Homo sapiens: one gene and its partner. The protein of the gene in region 1 binds, or shares a complex with, the protein of each later gene. Each region holds a gene or a part of one and is shown in the gene's direction. Other genes may lie near its edges. The genes, in order: AIFM1 and CHCHD4.

The links.
Region 2: the proteins of AIFM1 (region 1) and CHCHD4 are in contact, whole or in part, in a cryo-EM structure (PDB 9GQZ), measured with the Homo sapiens proteins. Residues at the interface, in NP_004199.1 of Homo sapiens: Pro345, Tyr347, Ser500, Ser501, Leu502, Pro503, Thr504, Val505, Gly506, Val507, Phe508, Ala509, Lys510, Glu558, Asp559, Tyr560, Asn602, Ala605, Lys606, Phe608, Asn609, Ile610, His611; in NP_001091972.1 of Homo sapiens: Arg5 (codon at 8,820), Glu7 (codon at 8,826), Lys9, Asp10, Arg11, Ile12, Ile13, Phe14, Val15, Thr16, Lys17, His20, Thr22, Pro23.

Annotation. Positions count from the first base shown.
Region 1 is NC_000023.11:130,140,986-130,149,127, reverse strand, and holds part of AIFM1 (apoptosis-inducing factor 1, mitochondrial isoform AIF precursor), read left to right. Parts: intron 1-1,251; coding exon 1,252-1,376; intron 1,377-1,504; coding exon 1,505-1,635; intron 1,636-3,558; coding exon 3,559-3,649; intron 3,650-8,142. UniProt on the Homo sapiens protein: Functions both as NADH oxidoreductase and as regulator of apoptosis.
Region 2 is NC_000003.12:14,121,871-14,133,483, reverse strand, and holds the start of CHCHD4 (mitochondrial intermembrane space import and assembly protein 40), read left to right. Parts: upstream 1-8,613; 5' UTR 8,614-8,807; coding exon 8,808-8,829; intron 8,830-11,397; exon of another isoform or gene 11,398-11,506; coding exon of another isoform or gene 11,507-11,567; intron 11,568-11,613. Other genes in the region: TMEM43 (transmembrane protein 43), read right to left, coding at 549-621, 889-938, 1,810-1,904, 2,528-2,662, 3,923-4,072, 8,279-8,290.

The DNA of each region.
Region 1 (8,142 bases):
CAACATGGTAAAACCCCATCTATACTAAAAATACAAAAATTAGCCAGGCGTGGTGGTGCACGCCTGTAATCCCTGGTGCTCGGGAGGCTGAGGCATGAGAATCTCTTGAACTGAAGTGGCGGAGGTTGCAGTGAGCCAAGATCACGCTGCTGCACTCCAGCTTGGGTGACAGAGCAAGACTCTGTCTAAAAAAAAAAAAAAAAAAGTCTCTTAAAAGGCAAGCTTAGCAAGGAAAACTATTGGAAAAGATGGAAAAGAGATGAAAACCTTTTTTTTTTTTTTTTTTTTTTTTTTGAGATGGAGTTTCACTCTTTTTGCCCAGGCTGGAGTGCAGTGGCCCGATCTCATCTCACTGCAACCTCCGCCTCCTGGGTTCAAGCAATTCTCCCGCCTCAGCCTCTGGAGTAGCTAGGATTACAGGTGTGTGCCACCATGCCTGGCTAATTTTGTATGTTTAGTAGAGACAGGGTTTCACCATGTTGGCCAGGCTGGTCTCAAACCCCTGACCTCAGGTGATCCGCCTGCTTCGGCCTCCCAAAGTGCTGGGATTACAGGTGGGAGCCACCACGCCCAGCCGAAAGCTGTTTTTTAAATGAGGAAATTCTTCTAGTCTGTTTTGTTCCCCTTTTGAGTCTTTGCAGTTTCGAGTTGCTAAAGGTATATTTGCTTTCCTAAAGCACATACCCTAGCCATCACTTCCATTTCACATGATTCACTTCAATTTTCAGAGAGGACTGTTTTAATCCTTTAATAAGCCCCACAACTCTGGGTGGGCAATTTGTTCTGCTTTTTTCAAAAGCACCCCCTTATTCTTGAACATTGTATGATAATCCCCAATTGACCTCCTGGATTTTCTCCCTTTGTTGCTAACGGAAGGTGAAACTGAGCCTGATATTTTCCTGGTGATCACTAGGAAATTGATGGGAAGGGCAAAAGCCTACTGATGTATACTTTCTAAATGTTTTAGAAGTAACTAAATATTTAAGCTATGTCCTAGTACCAGTTCAGACCTGATGAATGAATGACATTGGTGAAATCATTCTCCTATTTTTCACTTATGAAATGAAAGGGATACTTGCTTTTCCTCTCCCATCAGGATGCTGTGAAGATTGTTAAGATTAGCGTAGGTCATATGTTTTGCTAGCTTTATGTGGAGGATTGAGACAAGTGCAAGGTGATTTTTTTTTAACAGTGGCAAAGAATCATCTGAGACTTCAAGAAGATTCATCCAGTCTGTTCTGTTGCTTTCAGCTTCAGAAGGAGAGGAAGTTCCTCAAGACAAGGCGCCAAGTCATGTTCCTTTCCTGCTAATTGGTGGAGGCACAGCTGCTTTTGCTGCAGCCAGATCCATCCGGGCTCGGGATCCTGGGGCCAGGGTAAGGTGCATGTTTTTTTGCTTGGCACAGAGGGTACAGTCTGCAAGCATTTAGCTAATGTGAATGCTTTGACATTTGCCCCTTAAATGACTTGGCTCTGATAAGCGTCATGATTTTTATGTCTGAAGGTACTGATTGTATCTGAAGATCCTGAGCTGCCGTACATGCGACCTCCTCTTTCAAAAGAACTGTGGTTTTCAGATGACCCAAATGTCACAAAGACACTGCGATTCAAACAGTGGAATGGAAAAGAGAGAAGGTGTGTTTGCTTATGTAAAATGAGCCTATCAACTTCAGCTAAGCACAGAGAATAGGTTAGGATTTTGCCACTGACTGTGTACAGTAATAGGAGGGATGGCTTGGCTGTCCACTAGAGTCTACTGTGGTCCACACTTGGTACAGCTTAGAGATAACAGTCTACAAAGGGCAAGAGTCCTGGATTCTGTTACCAGATCTACCAACAGTTGATGGTGTAATGTTGGCCTCTGAAATACTAATGCTCCTATTTCTGGAACCTTTATGTTAAGCTTCTTTAGGTGAAGATCAACTTGGCCTGTATTGTCACTTCTTTTTTTATTTTTATTTTTTGAGATGGAGTCTTGCTGCTCTGTCACCAGGCTGGAGTGCAGTGGCGCAATCTCAGCTCACTGCAACCTCCACCTCCCGGGTTCAAGCAATTCCCCTGCCTCAGCTTCTCAAGTAGCTGGGATTACAAGCACGTACCACCACACCCGGCTAATTTTTTGTATTTTATAGTAGAGATGGGGTTTTATCACATTGGCCAAGATGGTCTCGATCTCCTGACCTCATGATCCGCCTTCCTCGGCCTCCCAAATTGCTGGGATTACAGGCGTGAGCCACTGCCCCCAGCCATCACTTCTTTATACTTGCCTAGACATGTCCTACAAGAGCAGAAGAAAAGAAACTTTTTAACGGCACTCTCTTTGACAGCCTAGCAGGCATTTAGAATTTCAGGAGTAGAGTAGGAAGGCTGTAAGGAAGAGCCTGTGTTAGAATTTTTGCACGACAGACTTGGAGATACAGGTCCAGAAGCTTTTTCCTTTTGATGGACAACTTAGATCTCAATTCTAGTACCATGTTCTTTGGGTTCCAATTTTTTTTCTCATTAGTGACCCCTTTGATACCTGACCAAATTTTACAAACTTACCCTTTTCCCTCACCCCCACTAGTTCCATTTTCAAACAGGATGTATACTTTCAATTAAGTTAGTGGCTAACTTTATATGTATACATATGCATACACACACACACACACACACACACACACACACACACACACATATTTTGAGAGACAGGGTCTGGCTCTGTCACCCATGCTGGAGTGCAGTGGCCGAATCATAGCTCACTGCAGCCTCAAACTCCTGGGCTCAAGTGATCCTCCCACCTCAGCCTCCCGAGTAGCTAGGACTACAGGTGCGTACCACCACGTGCCTTTTATTAATTAAAAAAATTTTTTTCTAGAGACGAGATGTTGCTATGTTGCCCAATCTGGTCTCAAACTCCTGGCCTCAAGTGATCCTCCCAACTTGGGCTCCCAAAGCACTGGGGTTATAGACCTGAGCCACTGCACTCAGCCAATATTAATATATTAACTAATTAATATTAATATATCATAGTTGATAACTGCTTGAGGCAGAGTCTTCTCAGGAGCTATAATTAGTTGTTCCATTGAAGAGCACCATTCTGGACAACCCATTTGGGTGGATATGTGAATACCAGCTCTTTGGGTGCTCCACTTGTTCTTACTTTGAAATGAACCTAAATCTAGAGCAGGATCCTCAGCCTCAGCACTATTGACATTTGGAGCAGGATAACGCTTTGCTGGGGGTGGGGAGCTGTCCAGTGCATCATAGGATGTTTAGCAGCATCCCTGGCCATTACCCACTGGATATGAGTAGCATCCCTACCCAAGTTATTACAACCCAGATTGTCTCTGGACACTGGCAAACATCCCCTGGGAGCAAAATTGCCCCAAGTTGAGAACCACTGATCTGGATACCTGTATGTAAGCAAGTCATGACCATGATTTAATAGACTTGGAGACTTACTTTGGAAAACGTCCCTTAAAGTTTCTGATAATGGAAACAGTTTTATTAAAGCTACGGGGGAAGCTGATAACAGTTCCACATGCTTATAATATTCTCCCTCTCTTCTCCATACAGCATATATTTCCAGCCACCTTCTTTCTATGTCTCTGCTCAGGACCTGCCTCATATTGAGAATGGTGGTGTGGCTGTCCTCACTGGGAAGAAGGTGAGCTAGTAGACCGCTTCTTTTGTCAGGCTCTACGTACTTGCCCACCAGCCAGTATGGTGATGTGTGTTTCCATTACCATTTATGTCTGTCCTGCCATTGTAGTTCATCAAAGAAGGATCGAGCTGCTTTAGGTTTAATAATGCTGAGTGTGTCTTTCTGGGGAAAGCACTAGTATCAAAGCCTAGGTTAGCATGCTGACTCAACTTGACCCTAAAAGCTGTTATCTCTCCTATTTGCTCTTCTGCCCTTCCTCATCCTTCCTGTTTTCCCACACTAACTTCTCTCTGGGATTATCGATGAGAAAAGATTGACAAATATGTATTACTCATAGTAAAATAATTTGGGCATAACTCAGCACGGAATATATTGTTAGACTTTAAAAGGTGAGTGTCTGAGTAATAAGGTCAGTTATTAGCAGGTATTTGTGGAGTCCCAGGATGGTTTTGTTATATTTTATTGTTGTTAATGGCAGGTACTAGAGTGTGTGTGTAAACTAATGGCAGTGTTCCAATAGGGACGCATTCTCTGAAGGAGCAAAGCCCAGAGTAGATGAGATACACAGCATAAGTGGAAGGATTGTCCTTCGTTAGGAACATACTCACTTCTCCTGTAAGGGGACATTAGACAGAGAAGATGGATATAGGTTTGTTGATAAGCCGGTAATGAGACATTTAGTGTCCCCTATGTGTAAACAACATTCAGGCCCTGCCCTCTAGGGGCTAACTGTATTAGGCAGAAACATAAATACATAATCATAACACATAGGTGTGTAGTAAGAGAGATCTGCGCAGTATGTTGTGGGAAATACTGGGAAGGGTGCCCAGTAGAGTGATGACATCAGGAAAGGCTTTCTGGAGGAGAAGGTCTTACAGAATGGGCAATCTTATGGAATGAAGAGGCATTCACCAGACTAGAGAAGACTGAAGAGCATCCAAGTAAAAAAGAACAGCATAAGCAAAAGCACAAGGGCACAAAAAAGCATGTTTGGTGCCAGGAAATAGAAGCAGCTCGATACTGATAGAGCAGTTAGGTACAAGTTAGGAAGTGGCAAGAGATGAACCTGAGAAGTTATGCAAGGGGCCTGATTGTGGAGGGCTTTGCGTGAAAGAGCTTTTTCTGCACTGGGGAGCTGTTGCATTTTAGGCAATTGAATTTTAAATAATCACCATTGGCCGTGAGGAGGATGGATTTCAGTGAGACAAGACTAGAGAGAGACCATTTCAGAGATTATTGCAATAATCTAGGCAAGAGATGATGAGAGCCCAAATTAGAATAGTAGTGGTATGATGATGATGAAGAAGAAGAAGAAAGTAAGAGGTAAAATTTGTATAGTACCTATTCTAATCTTGTAAGCACAGTTCTTAAATGCTTTATGTGCACCATCTCATTTTATCCTCCCAATAATCTTATGAGGTAGGTATTATTTCCCTCTTACAGAGAAATAAGTTGAAATTTTTAAAAATAAATAAATTTTAAATAATTTGCCTAAACTCACATAGCTAGTAAGTGGTAGAGAGAGAATTTGAGCCCGGGTCTGTCTGAGCCACAGAATTGGAACCCAGCTATTCTGATTCCAGAGCCTAAGCTATTAATAACATCAGTGTACAGTGTACAGTACTTTTTTTTTTTGAGACAGATTCTCACTCTGTCGCCCAGGCTGGAGTACGGTGGCATGATCTCAGCTCGCTGCAACCTCTGCCTCCCAGGTTCAAGCGATTCTCCTGCCTCAGCCTCCCAAGTAGCTGCATGCGCCACCATGCCTGGCTATTTTTTTTTTTTGTCTTTTTAGTAGAGATGGGGTTTTACCATGTAGGCCAGGTTGGTCTCGAACTCCTGACCTCAGGTGATCCACCCACCTCGGCTTCCCAAAGTGCTGAGATTACAGGCATGAGCCATCGTGTCCAGCCAGTATTACTTCTTGATAGAAAGGTGATGAGAAGTAGGGAACACACTTGAGGCATGCTTAGGAGTCATGCTTGATGAGGCTTGGTGGTTGGTTAAAGGTAGAAGATGAAGGAGATGGAGGAGGCAAAGATGATTTTCTAATTTCTAGCCTGCATGTCTGAGTGGATGGCAGTGTACCCACAGCTGAGAAAGACATTACAAGAGGAAGAGCTAGTTTAAGGGGGAAGATAAAATTCAGTTTTGGACCATTAAGTATGAAGTGGAATATCTGCGTGAAGGTGTCTTCTGGGCAGTTGGACATATGACTGCCACGCCCAGGGGACTTGGGCTCAGATAGAGAGCTGAGAATCATCTGCATATGTGTAGAAGTTGAAACCATGAGAGTAGGTGAAGCCTCCCAGGGAGAACTGATCTGGTGAGAAGAGGAGGAAGGCAAGGATAGAGCCCTGGGGAACCCCAATTTTTAGGAAGCAGGCTTAAGAAGAACCCACAAAGGAGACTAGGAAAGAACTTAAAGAGCAGTATGAGGAAACCTGAGGACAGGAGCCAAGGTTGTAGGGAGTTTCAAGAAAAAGAATGTGATCCACAGTGTTACCGTGGCAGAGGAATCTGGGAAGAAAAGAACCGTAAAATGCACTGTGAGATTTGGCGGTTCAGATACCTTTGGGAGGCTGAGGCAGGTGGATCACTTGAGGTCTGGAGTTAGAGACCAGCCTGGCCAACATGGTGAAAACACATCTCTACTAAAAATACAAAAATTAGCCAGGTGTGGTGGCGCACACCTGTAATCCCAGCTACTCAGGAGGCTGAAGCACGAGAATCGCTTGAACCCAGGAGGCGGAGGTTGCAGTGAGCCAAGATTGCATCAGTGCACTCCAGCCTGGGTGACAGAACAAGACTCCATTTCAAAAAATTAATAAAATAAAACAGATACCATTGGGAAGTTAGAAAAGAGGGTAAAGCACTCTTTCAAAAGATTTAAATGAGAAAAGAGAGATGGCAATCGGATAAAAGCGTGAAGAGGACATAGAATCAAAGGTGGGACCTATTGGATGGGACAAGCATGTTAATAGGCTGGACGGGGGTGGTGGGGAGCCCTCATGCCTCATGGGAAGCTATGGAAGATCACATCTAATGGCTTCATTTGTTTTTGCAATACAATAGAACATAAGATGGTTATCTGAGAGCGAACACCGTGAGGGTTGAGTAGCGGGATTGGATTGAAGAGGGAGCTTACCAAGGACAAATCAAAGGAGGCTAAAGAAGCTGCTTATCCATCAGATCTCAGTTCATGTCATTGCCTCTAGAAAGCTTTACCCAACCCAACCTGACTAGATTGCACATGTCATATGTTCCCAGCGCTACCTGCACTGTTCTTACCACTTACATCACATTTGTCACTCTTGATTATTGTTAGTGCTTGTTAAATTGTCTTGGCCACTAAACTCTGAAAGCAGCAAGGATCACTGTCTCAACTTGATACATAGTAGGTGCTTAATTGAATGGTCTCAGCTAGTAAAGAGTGGTGCAAAGACTGGGGCCCTATTCTCTCTGACTCCAAAGCTCAAGCTCTTAACCATAAGAAGGAGTAGGGTGCAAGGGAATTAAAGGTACTGGCAAAAGAACAGTTTGGGTGTTCTACCATTGGCCCAAATTAGTTAGAATGGAGCAGCTAGTCAAATAAACAGAGAAAATTGAAAGCAAGCATAGGAGACAGACTGAGCGAAAGCTGAAGGGATGGAAAATTGTGACCAACAAGTAGAATAATTGAGGTAGGAGGAGAGGTTTAGGAGATAACAAGATGAGGAAAAGTATGAGCCAGGTTCCAAGGTCTTCAGTGAATCAGGAGGAGTAGCCAGGAGGTGGCTCAAAACAGTGATTCGTAGGAATATAGGACTCCTCTGATGTCCCTCAGAAGAGAATGAAAGTACAAGAATCTGGAAGCAGCAGACCAGTAACCTCAAGAAGCTTGCAGAATGCCAACACCTCCTCCTGGCCTTGTGATGTGGAGTGTGGGGGAACGAACAGCCTCTATGTGTAAGCTCTCCTTAAGAGAGAGCCAAGTTTCCGTGAAGGCTACAAGTTGGAGAAAGCATTCTGTAAAAATGTTGTAGATGTAGGAGACTTATTAATAAAGTAATAATAAGTAATTCCAAACAGCCATATAAGAAAGGCTGTTCCGATTCTCCTTTTCCACACATGGGTCAGGGCTTTGGGACTGTCATGACTTGCTCTAATGTTGCCTGCCTTCTCATTGCCAATTTCCAACATATGACTGCCTAAAAAAACTGGGTACCAGAAACTGTGGTTCCCATGATTACTTGGATATGGTTTCTTAAGGATCGCTTTAGGTCAAGAACTCATTCTTCTTATTGGGCTGACAACTTTTTTTGTTTTTGTTTTTGTTTGTTTTTGTTGTTGTGGTTTTGGGGTTTTTTTGTTTTGTTTTGTTTTTGAGACAGAATCTTGCTCTGTTGCCCAGGCTGGAGTGCAGTGGCATGATCTCGGCTCACTGCAACCTCTGCCTCCCAGGTTCAAGCGATTCTCCTGCCTCAGCCTCCCCAGTAGCTGGGACCACAGGCATA
Region 2 (11,613 bases), on another chromosome or scaffold:
CCCACCCACTGCTGTCAGATGTATCTTGCATGGACTTTACACCCCTCACTAGCCCCTCCCAGAGCATTCCATCCCAACCATCTTACTGGCACAGCCCAGACCATTGCTGAACAAGGCCTGCTCTCTAGCCACACCCAAGTGTTATGCCCGCCTCACCACTGGCATGCCGTGGAGCTAACCTCCCTCTGCTGAAATCCTGAGAAGCCTGAACAAATGCCGCTGCCTCTGGAAAGCCTGTCCTGATTGTCCTCCCACCCATGGCAAACCATTAACAAAATGCTTCCCCGGCCCCGTGTGTGCAAATCCCCTTAGACGCTTAGTGCAGGCCTTATATTTGTGACTTGTTTGCGGGGAGCTTGTCTGGGGTCAGGGGAGACAAGTCTCTGTGTTCCTGGTGCCCAGCACAGGGCTTGGTCTCAAACCCATGTCCCACATTTTCAACCCACGAGGCAGGATTAACTCAATCCTGTTATTCAGATGAAGAAACTGAGGCTGGAGACCTGCCAGTGTAGACAAAGCTGCACTCAGGCCTTGGGCCTGGCTCTCACCTGGGGTTTTTGTGGCCAATCTCTCGGTCGAAGTTTTTGCTGTTGATGATTTCTGACCTCCATTCAGTGTCTGCTCAGGGAGAGGAATCAACTCAGAGCCCGGGTAGGAGTGGCACGCGGCTGAGACCCACCAGCCCAGCTCCTCCTATCTCACAGCCAAAGGGGTGGGTCAGGGAGCCTCAATGGATGGGTGGGAAAGCAGGGCTCTGAAGACTTGCACCCAGGGATCCTGATGCCTGGTGCTGAATCCTTCCCATGGCCCCACCAACAGCCCTGCTGTCCAGCCACCACTGTGGGCCCCCACCATGGGCAGAGACCACGTAAGGGGCCCAGCACTCACTGTAGGAATACCTCGTCTCCTTCTTCACCTGCCCATCCTCGGTGTACTCCCTGCAGGGAAAGCAAAGCAGCCACGGGGGTTAGCCTCGTCGCCCCAGGCAGTCTAATCTCTAAGCATCTGAGCAGGAAGCAACCTCAGGGCTACCAGATCAGACTCCCCAGATACGGCAGATGCCTTCTCTACACCAGCCCCAAGACAGGGCACTCACTCCTGACAGACAGCCAGCTCCTGCCCTCCAAGGCGCTACCTGGAGGAAAGCGCTCTCCCATCCTGAGCTGAAATCTGCCCGCACTGGCCTTACACCAAGGGGCCCAGCCCTGCCCTTTGGGCTCAGAGATCTGGCTGCATCCTCTGCTCCAGGACAGCCCTGCGGGGGGCCTCTTGAAGCTGCCCTTCTCCTGCTCCTCCCACCACCTCCCCACCTGTCGGTCACAGTCCATATGATTCAGGTGGGGCTGAACCCACCCCCAGCTCCAGGTGACCCCAGCCCTGATCAATGAGAACCTGCCCTGGGACTCCTGTCAGAAACGATAAGCTGTAAGTAGAGCAAAGATGGGACCAACACAGCTGATGGGAAGGCTGAACACAGAGAGATGCAGTGGGGTCTCGGGGTTGACATGCTGATCCTAATGACAGTGTTTCAGGCCTGCTCCAAGTCATGCTTCAAGCTTGTGCATCTCTGGAACTTCCCAGATGTGGGAGCAACTCAATCCCCCTTTCCTCCTGGAGCCACTCTTCACTGGATTTTTGCCACTTCCAAATCACTGGCTATTAATTTGGGGATCATTTCACACTTTTCTGATAGGAAGATGTTATACTTGAGTTTCAAAGGTATCAAAATGAAAGACATCTGCATGTTATCCTGACACCTACACTTCACTCCTCCTTTACCCCAACAGAGTTTTCACCCCAACAGCTCACCTGGACTCCTCAGTTTCTACCCATTGGTACATCTCCACGTGCCTCCGCAGTTTCACAGCCGGAAGATGGACCCCATAGTTTGGATCAGACAAAAGCTTCAAACAGAATCAAAGAAACCAAAAAAATAAAGGATAACATTCACGTCAGCCCAGAAAGCCTGGCTCAGGGGAAGCTGGACTGGAAGAGGAAGAAATAGAGAAGGGGACAAGGGTGGAGAGCCCTACACTGCTTTGCAGGGGAGAATCGAGGACACTCCCTGTCCCAGGTTCTTTACACACAGTGCCTGTGACTGTGACCCTCACAGTACAGGCCTGGGCTGCATGGCCCAATGGCATGGTGCCAACAGCGTACAGGGTGTTCAAATAACAGGAAAGCTCTGGTGCCCAGGGTAGTTTTGTGGCCTTGCACTGGACACACATGGTCATCAGAGTCATGAGAGCACCTCCCTGAGTGCCAGCCACTGTACCAAGGCGTTAGTTACCTAATCTCACCAAATCCTCAAGGCTGGCCACAAGCTTGTAACCATTACCGTCCCCATTTTATACACGAAGACACTGAGACTCAGGATAGACAAGTCCACACAGCTGCTGAGTGGTAAAGTCGGGAATCACTCCCATGTGTGACCATCTCCAAGGCCCATGCTTTCAAATCCTCAGCCAGACAACATCCAGGATGAGCCCCGAGCCACTGGCAGGTCAGCATCCCCTGCCAAACCTACCTTGGATGTCCGTAAGGCGCCAATGATGTGCACCAGCCTTCCTTCATTCTCCGGAGCCACACTGTGGATGCTGTCGGGAGACACCACAAGCGAGAGCCCCTCAGCCAATGAGGTTGCCGTCTTCAATGCGCGGCCCTGGGAGCAAAGGGGAGTGGGGATTTCAACAGCTCAGGGGTGGCTCAGCATGACTGTGCTTGTTGCAAAGTATTAGGGTAGGATGGGGCCTCCGGGAGCGCTGAGACCCATCTCCCCACCGTACAGTTGGAAAACTGAGGTCTAGCAAGTGGAGAGTAAGGACTGGAACCCAGATTCCTGCTTTCCCAGGGAGACTTCTTCCTACTGCCCCATTGGTTCCCACTAGCCCCCACCAATCTTAGCACTGCCCCAGTGGTGGGAACAGCTGATGTTTCTGCCTGCCTGTCCCTTTCTCCCCATTTTTCTCTGCCTTCTTTTTTTTAATTTTATTTTTATGTTTAAGTTTTTTGTAGAAATGGGGTCTTGCTATGTTGCCCAGGCTGCTTTCGAACTTCTGACCTCAAGCGATCCTGCCTCCTTGGCCTCCCAAAGTGCTGGGGTTACAGGCTTGAGCCTCCATGCCTGGCTCTCCTCTCTCCTACTCAGCCCATGTGGTTTACCTGAGTCTATCTGAACCCTGGTCAGATTATGGGACCCAGACCTTGCCAGTCAGAACATGTGAGTGCGCCCTGGACACGGAGACTGATTCAGAGGACGGAGAGCCAAGCCAGGACACTGAGAGATGGCCCTGTAACTGCTGCTAAATTGATTTAGAAATATACTGTTGCATCATGAGGCCCTATTAAAAAAAAGGAGAAAAAGAAAGAGAGAGGGAGAGAAAGAAAGAAACAAACAAACAAGAAAGAGAGAAAGAGAGAGACAAAGGAAGGAAGGAAGAAAGGAACAAAGGAAGGGAGGGAGGGAGGGAGGGGAAAGAAAGGAAAAGAAAGAAAGGAAGAGAAACAGATGGTTTTTCTCTTCCCTGGGCTAAGTGGTTGGATGTAGGCCAGTTGCTGGGGCCACATTTGCCATCACAGATGAAGTGCCTGCCCAAGAAAAACACCATAATAGAGAAAAACAGGCAAAAGATGAAGAAATGGAGATTCCTGGTGACCCAGCATGAACACCTGGATCCAACTACGCCTGAGGCAGGTGCTAACCCCTGGATATTCAGGTGTGTGAACTGATCTACTCCCCTTCCTGCTCACATCAGCTGTGGGATGGATCACAATGGAAAGAACTGTGATTAACTCAGTATCCTCCTTTCTCTTTTTAAAATCTAGGCCCTTGATTACCAAATCCAGCCTCCGGGTTCATCGCCTTTGCTCTCTGACATGGTGGGGACTCTCACTCTGCACAGGAAGACCCCAGACATTTTACCTCATTGGTGAAAATTAGGTAGAAGGAGAGCAGGAAGGCCATGAGCCCCACAAACATCCCACCCGAGGTCTCGCTCAGCCGTTCCAGGAAGCCTGGCTGGGAGCTGGTTTTAACTTTGACATGTTCTCTCCGGGTACTGGTACTGGAATACTGAAGAAAAAGAAACAGTAACAGAATGAAAACTAGTTTTTAAAAATAAATTAAATTTGCTATTTATTTATACTCAATTTTTTTTTTTTTTTTTTTTTTTTTTTAGTTTTAACTGTATGTGGTAAAAACACACAGATATTCAATGTACAGTTTGGCAGGTTTCCACAAACGTATATTCCATCTGACCAACATCTAAAGCAAGGTACAAAATATTTCCATCACCCCAAAAAGTTTCTTTGTGCCCCTTTCCTGCCAATTCTCCCCCTCTCCACCAACCAGAGGTAACTGGTGGGGATGGGGAGAATCTGAATTTGAATTTCTCCTACCGTAGATTAGTTTGTTTCTTCTACAACTTGAGAAAAATGGAATCAGGGCACCAACTCCTTTCTGCCCAGCTTCTTGGACTCAGAGCACTGCTTTTGCAATTCATTCATGTTGTGGTGTTTATCAGGAATTTGTTCCTTTTCATGGCTGAGTAGTATTCCATTTATGACTATACCACAGTGTGCTGAATCATTCGTCAGTGGATGGGTATCTTGACAGCTTCCAGGTTTTGGCTGTTATGAATAATGCTGCTGTGAATATTCATACATGAACCTTTATGCAGACATGTGCTTTCATTTCCCGTAGGAATATACCTAGGAGTACAACTGCTGGCTCGTGAAGAAGATGTACGTTTAACTTTTTATGAAACTGCCAAGCTATTTTACAAAGAGGTTATTAGAGATGTATTTTTAATTAAATTCAGCAAACAGTGGCTGAGCTTTCTGAGGGCAGTGCTAGCCCTTGTGGGGTCAGAAGTAGACAGTCTTAGGGCAGTGAGGTCACAACCATAAACAATACTAGAAGGTCACACAGAGGGTCCTGTGATGGGGGTGGACTTGGTGCTCAAGGAGTGACCCCTTCCACCTGGGGTATCAAGGAGGCTCCCTTGAGTGGAATCTTAGAGGCAGATCTTAGGGGAAGAGCATCCCTAAAGGGAGAACCGTATCAGCAGTGATGAGGAAGTAGGAAGTGGTTCTGGGGGAGCAGCTGCCTGTCTGCTTTGGCTGGGTGGGAGCAGTGGAGGAAGAAAGGGCTTGGAGGTAGGCATTTCTGGGCAGGTTCACAGTGGGCCTCAAACTCAAGGGTGAGTGGATCAGGCTTTGGTCAATAACAGAGGCATGATTTGGGGTGCATCCACTGCTGATCAAAAGTGTCATCGTCTAGGGCAGGATTCTGGAGCCAGAAGAACTGGGTTTGCATTTATGCTCTGCCACATACCAGCTACGGGGTCTTGGGCAAGCAACTTCACCACTTTGTGCCTTCCATTTCCTCTGTGCATAGGGTTGTGGTGAGAACCAAAGAACACAGTTATTGGGTAGCTCAGGGCCTAGGGCGTGGTAAGCACTGGACACGTGTTAGCTAGTAGAAATGTTACCAGATTTCCCTACAACTGATACTGGGCTGGCACCAGGCTGGGGGTGAGCTGACAAAAGTCACAAAGATGTAAAGTGGGGCCCAGCTAAGACAGGCCCCATCCTGGTATTGGGGGCCAGAGGAGTGATTTGACTCAGAATCTCTGCTTGAACAAAGCTGATGTCGCATTCTGATTGTCTTTGAGTACCACCAGCCAAGGCCTCCAGTGACCAGATGTCCATGAATCCAGAAGTCGTCTTGACTTTCCATGCCATTTGGAAACATTAGGTGAGTGAATCACCACATAGGGGCAGGTGACCATCACAATGATGACAATGGCAAACACACCGGGTCTATCACAGGCCAGCCCACAGGCAAGCCCAAAGAGCGGGATGTCATAACGACCCCATTTCACCGATAAGAAAATCGGGCTCAGGGTTACGTCATCTTCCCAGATCACACAGCTTCTAAGAGGAAGAGTTAGGATTCAAATCCGGGCAGACTGGAGGCTACTCTCCCATTACTCATTCCAGTCTGTGCTCCCCATCTCTTGGGCTACAATGTGAGCTGAATGTTGGGAGCCAGCTGCAGGCAGCAATAGGAAAATAAGGCGTGTCTTCCTCTTGGGCCTCCCCTCAGCCAGCATCAAGATAAGGGGCTCAAAGACGGCCTTGGAGGGAAGGAAGAGAGGTACAGGAGGGTGCCCCTCAGGCTAGGGGAGGGGTGAGGTGGGCAGTGACATGACAAACCCAGCCCACATTCTGAACCAAAATTCCCAGTAAACATGGAGGATCATAAAGGATCTATATATCCACACATATTTATATATACATATAGTATGTATTACATGTATACACACATTATATAAACACACACACACACGCACACACAGACGGACATCCCCAGTGACACATCCCCTCCCAGTCCTAGCACTCAGGACTTAGAAGAAATGAGCAATGAGTGGTGGGAACAGAGGCTGACACATAGGCCCTGGAAATGGACAGAACTGGATTTGATGCCTAGGTTCACCAATCGCTTGCTGTGTAAGCCTGGGTAAATTGCTCTACCTCTCTGATTCTGTTTACTCACTTATAAAGTGGAGAGGGGAATAGTACCTTCACCACAGGTACTGCTGCTGCTGTACTGATTGAGAATTTTGTTGCCTCCCTGCTCCATCCCGCTATCTTCTTCCTCACCCAGCCTAGTGGCTGCTGTAAATGTGTACTCAGCTACTGGATGAATCAAAAAATGCTTGGCAGCAGAGAATACTCAAATGCATGTATATTCCTTGGTGAGGGGTCAGGTCTCAATGTACCCAAGATGATCTCTATCCACTGGGACCATTTGTGCTACCCTGCAAGGACAGGCTTGTTTTCAAGTATTAAGTACCTACCACACATCAGGCACTGTGCTAAGCAGTCTCCCTTAAATATCACAGTAACTGATCCATGAGGCTACATAAACCTGGAGAGATGAAAGCCACACAGCTACTGGGTGGAAGAATCTGGATTGCCCCCAGGTCTCCCTAACTCCAAAGCCTGCCCTTTTCAGCATATTTCCGTGTCACAGCATGCCAAGCCGGCCACGAGAGCTTGGGCAAGTGCCTTCCCCTGCTAGGGAAGTTCCCCATCTGTAAAATATGGTGGTGGTAGTGATGGGAGCAGACAAAGAGTCCACATACTACAGACAGGCTGGTCTCCTGACTGCCCTCTCGCCTGGCCGAGCCTGAGTCTCTCCGAATACCTCTGAGGCTTTTCTAGGTACAACATTCAAGGCTTCTAACCCTCCTGTGGGCCCGAAATGTCCTGGGAGTGTGGATGATACTAACCCGAGACAAAGTGTACTAGGGCTGTGGGTGATGCACACCCTGGCCTCTCAAGGGGTGTGGGAGGCAGAGAGGACGCTTGGGGACAGAGGCGGTGTCTGGAAATAGGGTGTGACAGGCAAGGGGAGAGCTGCTAGGACACTCTACCAAAGCAGGAGGGAGGGTGTGTCTGGGGCTGGCTGGGCTCCTAAGCGGGCCCTAGAAGCACTTTCACAGAGGAGGGGAGAGGTGAGTCACCAGCTTCTCCCACACCCAGCGCCCTGGTAGGAGGCGCTGCTTGTTGAATGAATGTTGGGCTTAAATAGTTTCCCGAGAAAGGCTAGTTGCAGGGAGAAGAGGCCTTGAGGGAACAGCCCTCAGCCAGGCCTCCTCCAACCAAATCCTTGCTAGGGGGAGGAGGGGCCCCGACAGTAGAGAAATGCTCCCTCTCCCCCAACTCCTTCGCTCCCAGCCCAGCCTAAGCTTTTTGGAGCATCACAGACTCGGTTTACAGAGACTCCCTAGGGCGGAGAGCTCTCTGCCCGCCTGGACAGCCCTGTCTGTCCATTGCTGGACAGCTCCACTTGGGCTGGATCGCCTTCCTCCCTCCCAAGGGACTGGCGCCCTCTCTGAGGTCGCGTCCAGCTCTCATAATGCGCAAGTTTCAGGGCCCCAAGGTACAGGAGGGAACTGGGAATGCAAGGAGGGGCCGCGGAGAGGCGTACAAGCAGATCCCAGTACGGGAGCAACACCTCCGAGTCCGCCTCCGCACGAACGCCGAGGACGAGGCGAGCCAAGGAACACGGACAAAAGAAGCCTGGACAGGCCGCGAGATGAGCAGAGGGATGAGCTGGCGAAGGCACAGACACGGCGAGCAGAGGGAGATGCGGGCCTAGCCGCACGGAGGAGCTCCAGGCGGCGAAATGGACCTAGAGGACCCCGGGGAAAAGCCCCAGGGCGACGGGGAAGCCTGGGTGTGGCCCGGCTGGCCCGGGGATACTCACATTCGCGGCCATGGTGGGACCCGGCTCGCTGCCGCCGCCTCGCGCTGTTCAGCTAGGAAGTGGGCTGACGACTGGAGCGTGGTGTCCAGCGGCCTCTTGCCAGCCCCAGCTTCGAAAATCCGCGTGGACTCCAGGGCCAAGCGGGACTTACTGCAGTTACCTCCCCCTGTGCCCAGTGTTTCTGCGCATGCGCGCGGCGAGACGTCCTGGAAACTATACGGTCCGGGACATTGCAGTACCTCATTGATGCGCCTGCGCACTGCAAAGCTTTCGGGGAAATGTAGTTTCTACTGCCTGGAGAGCTGTCGAGGAGCGCGCGACCTGCTGGGAAATGTAGTTTCCGGCTGAGGTTGGCCTGGCCGCGGTTGCGAGGGCGCCGAGGCAGGCGCGCGGCGGGCAGGCCTGGGAGGGGGCGGGTCCGCGCGGGCTTCGGAGGAGCCCGCCCTGCCAGAGGAGAGGGAGGTCACGGCGTAAAGGTGCAGCTGCCGCCACCGCCGCTTCTGCAAGGTCTCAGGGACGGGCTGCAGCCATGTCCTATTGCCGGCAGGAAGGTAGGGAGGGCGGGCTGCCACGGAGACCGGCCTACGAGGGCCTGCGGGAGACACGCGGGCCCCGGCGCCCCGCGACCACGCCGGGCGCGGGCCACCTGAGGCGCGGCCCAGGTGCCCACCCTGGGACACTCGGAGGCGGGCCGGCTGGGGGGTCGCTACTCCTGTTTTGCGGATGAGAAAACCGAAGCTCTGGGGGGAACGGGGCTGGTCCAAGGTCACAGTGAAGCCCGAACCCTGACCTCAGAGGGGCCTGTGCGTAGGAAGTCGTAAACTAGGTCCGGTTGGGGCACGGGAAGTGCCGAGCACGTTGCGTGTGGCTCGAAACTGGGAATGTATGGTGGTTAATTATCACTACCGCTCCTGCCATACCCCACGTGTTTACATTTTGCACGCGCCTTTAAAAGGCGCGTCCCGAAAAGTTGCCACTCGGGGTAGCGTGTGCTGTGCTGGAGTGCTAGGAGTTCCACTAACGGGAATGTTTTTGAGCCCCCTGCTACCTGTCAGGCACTGTTCAAGGAAACTTGCCTGGCTTGTCTCACAGATCTCGCTGCGACCTTTGTAAGTCAGGCTCTGTTGTTGGTCACATTTTACTGAAGAGTAAAGTTAGACACAGGAGACATGGCTAAAGCCACTCAGCCAGCAAATCGTGGAGCTGGGGTTTGAGCCTGGGCATTGTGACCCCAGAAGAGCCTTATCCAATCTAGTGCCCAGTGGATTGCAGGGAGAACCCTGCCTACCTCCCACCCCAAAGTTGAGCTCCGACCACCTACTGCTTCCTTGATGTTACTCTACCCAAGAGCTCAGAAGTACCCGAGCCACAGGTCGGAGGGCCTCCCCACACACTGCCACAAACTGGCTCCTTGGCCCTGAGCTCCCACCTAACCCCTCCAGGCCCTGGTATCCAGTGTTGTAAAATGAGATGTTGGGCTTCATTGATACGGCAAATACTCATGAAGCACCTTCTCTGCGCCAGAGAAGGGGGATGGATGGTTATAAAACTACAGAGAGAGTTGGAAGTCCCCCAGAAATTCTTTGGTGAATACTCCAGCTCCGTCAGTTAATTCAAGCAATCTGAAGCCCAGAGAAGGAGGTGGCCTACCTGTAGTTACACATCCAGTTAGGAGACTAGCTCAGCCTAAAATTCTGAGCCTTTTCCCTGGTGGCGCTGTCTGCTTCTAGAACCTCTCCTCCTCTGGGTCGTAAAGCCATAAGACTCACTCTTTAATGAGTACTATTATATTTCCGCTGATTACTACTTAATGTGTGCCATAAGCAAAAGTCCTCTGCCCTCACCACTCTTGTTTTTAATTTCGAGTCTTTCTCTAATTTACTTCATTTAGCAAATAATTTTTGAGCCTTTGGGTATAATGAGGCTGTGCTGATAAACAAGACCCTCCTCTTTGAGGATTTACAGGAGGCAGTTTTCTCTGGAAAGGGGAGGCTAGGTCCATCTGCCTCCAAAACATGGAGCCCTATCTTTTCCTGCTTCAAAGATCTCTCTTAGTTCGGAGAGGAGTGAGAATTGAAAGCACTCACTTATAGGCCTTCCTTAGTATTTATCTTGTGCATACCACTGTCCCCGTAAGAAGTCCCTAACTTCCCCCCCTCCGCCCCCCACTGATCCTTTATGCTTCCCATAGGATTTTTAAAAAATGATCCCAAACTGCTTACTGTATCAGAGCTTATGTGATCTGGCCCTGTCTGCCTTTCCAGCCTGGTCTCTTCCCACCCTTTTGCTGCCCAGCCTCTAGCCTCTTGGCTATTCCCTTGGTTTGGTATATCCTGCCTTCAGCTCTTCCGTGGCTGACTCCTCATCCTTTAACATTTAGCTCCAATATCACCTCCTGACCCTTTGTGTCTTTCACATCCTGAACTGTCTGAAATGACCTTTTTTATTTTTTGCCATCTTACTTCCTGCCTGTCTTCTCGCACTAAGCTGAGAGCATCAGATGGGCTGTGGAATCCCCAGCATCTAGCACAGGGCTTGGTGTACAATGGGTGCCCACATCTTTATTGAATCATGCATTTACCTGCCCTCTGTTCTGAGTGAATCACTTGCCTGTACAAGTTTATTTCAGGGGTCCACCTGCTACCCAGCCTTCAGGTTAAACTCGTTGGTTTGGCATTCAAGGGCTCTCAGCCTCGCACCTGGGCCTTGGGCTAGCCACACTTCTCCTGTGTCAGCACCATAGTGTTTCTTTCTTAGTTTCCTCTTTCTAATGCAGAGCCTGCCAACTCCTGTTCAGTCAACAATTATAGAGCACACGTGATGTGCCAGCCATTGGGCATATAGTGGTGAGCAAGGTGACACATTCTCTGCCCTCCTGGCATGGTGGAACAGATTGCCATTAAAACATCACCAGACAAATGCATGATTACAGACTGTCATAGGTGACATGAAGGAAAAGCCCAGCATGCTATGATCGTTTAGTGAAAGGCTCTATGGGGTCTGAGAAGGCTTCCTGAGGCTTCAGACATCCTTTTAAATGCCACTTTCTTAAGAAAACCTTTTGCAATCCTAAACACGTGTGAGCGAACACTACTTAAAACCCTCCTTTTGCCCTCCAGGCTTTGCCCAGGATGGTTCCTTCTGGAATGTCTATTCCCCTCCTTCCCTCCCTGAAGCTCTTTGTCAGGGACAAAGGTAGGATCCCTCCCCTTCCGTCTTCTCCACTGGATGCCTGTGTCGTATTCATCTGTGACCACCAGGTACTACCACAGAGCTGGAGCTGAGGAAGGTTTGTTGAGCTAAACTTCTAACACTTGCATTCTTCTTAACACTCT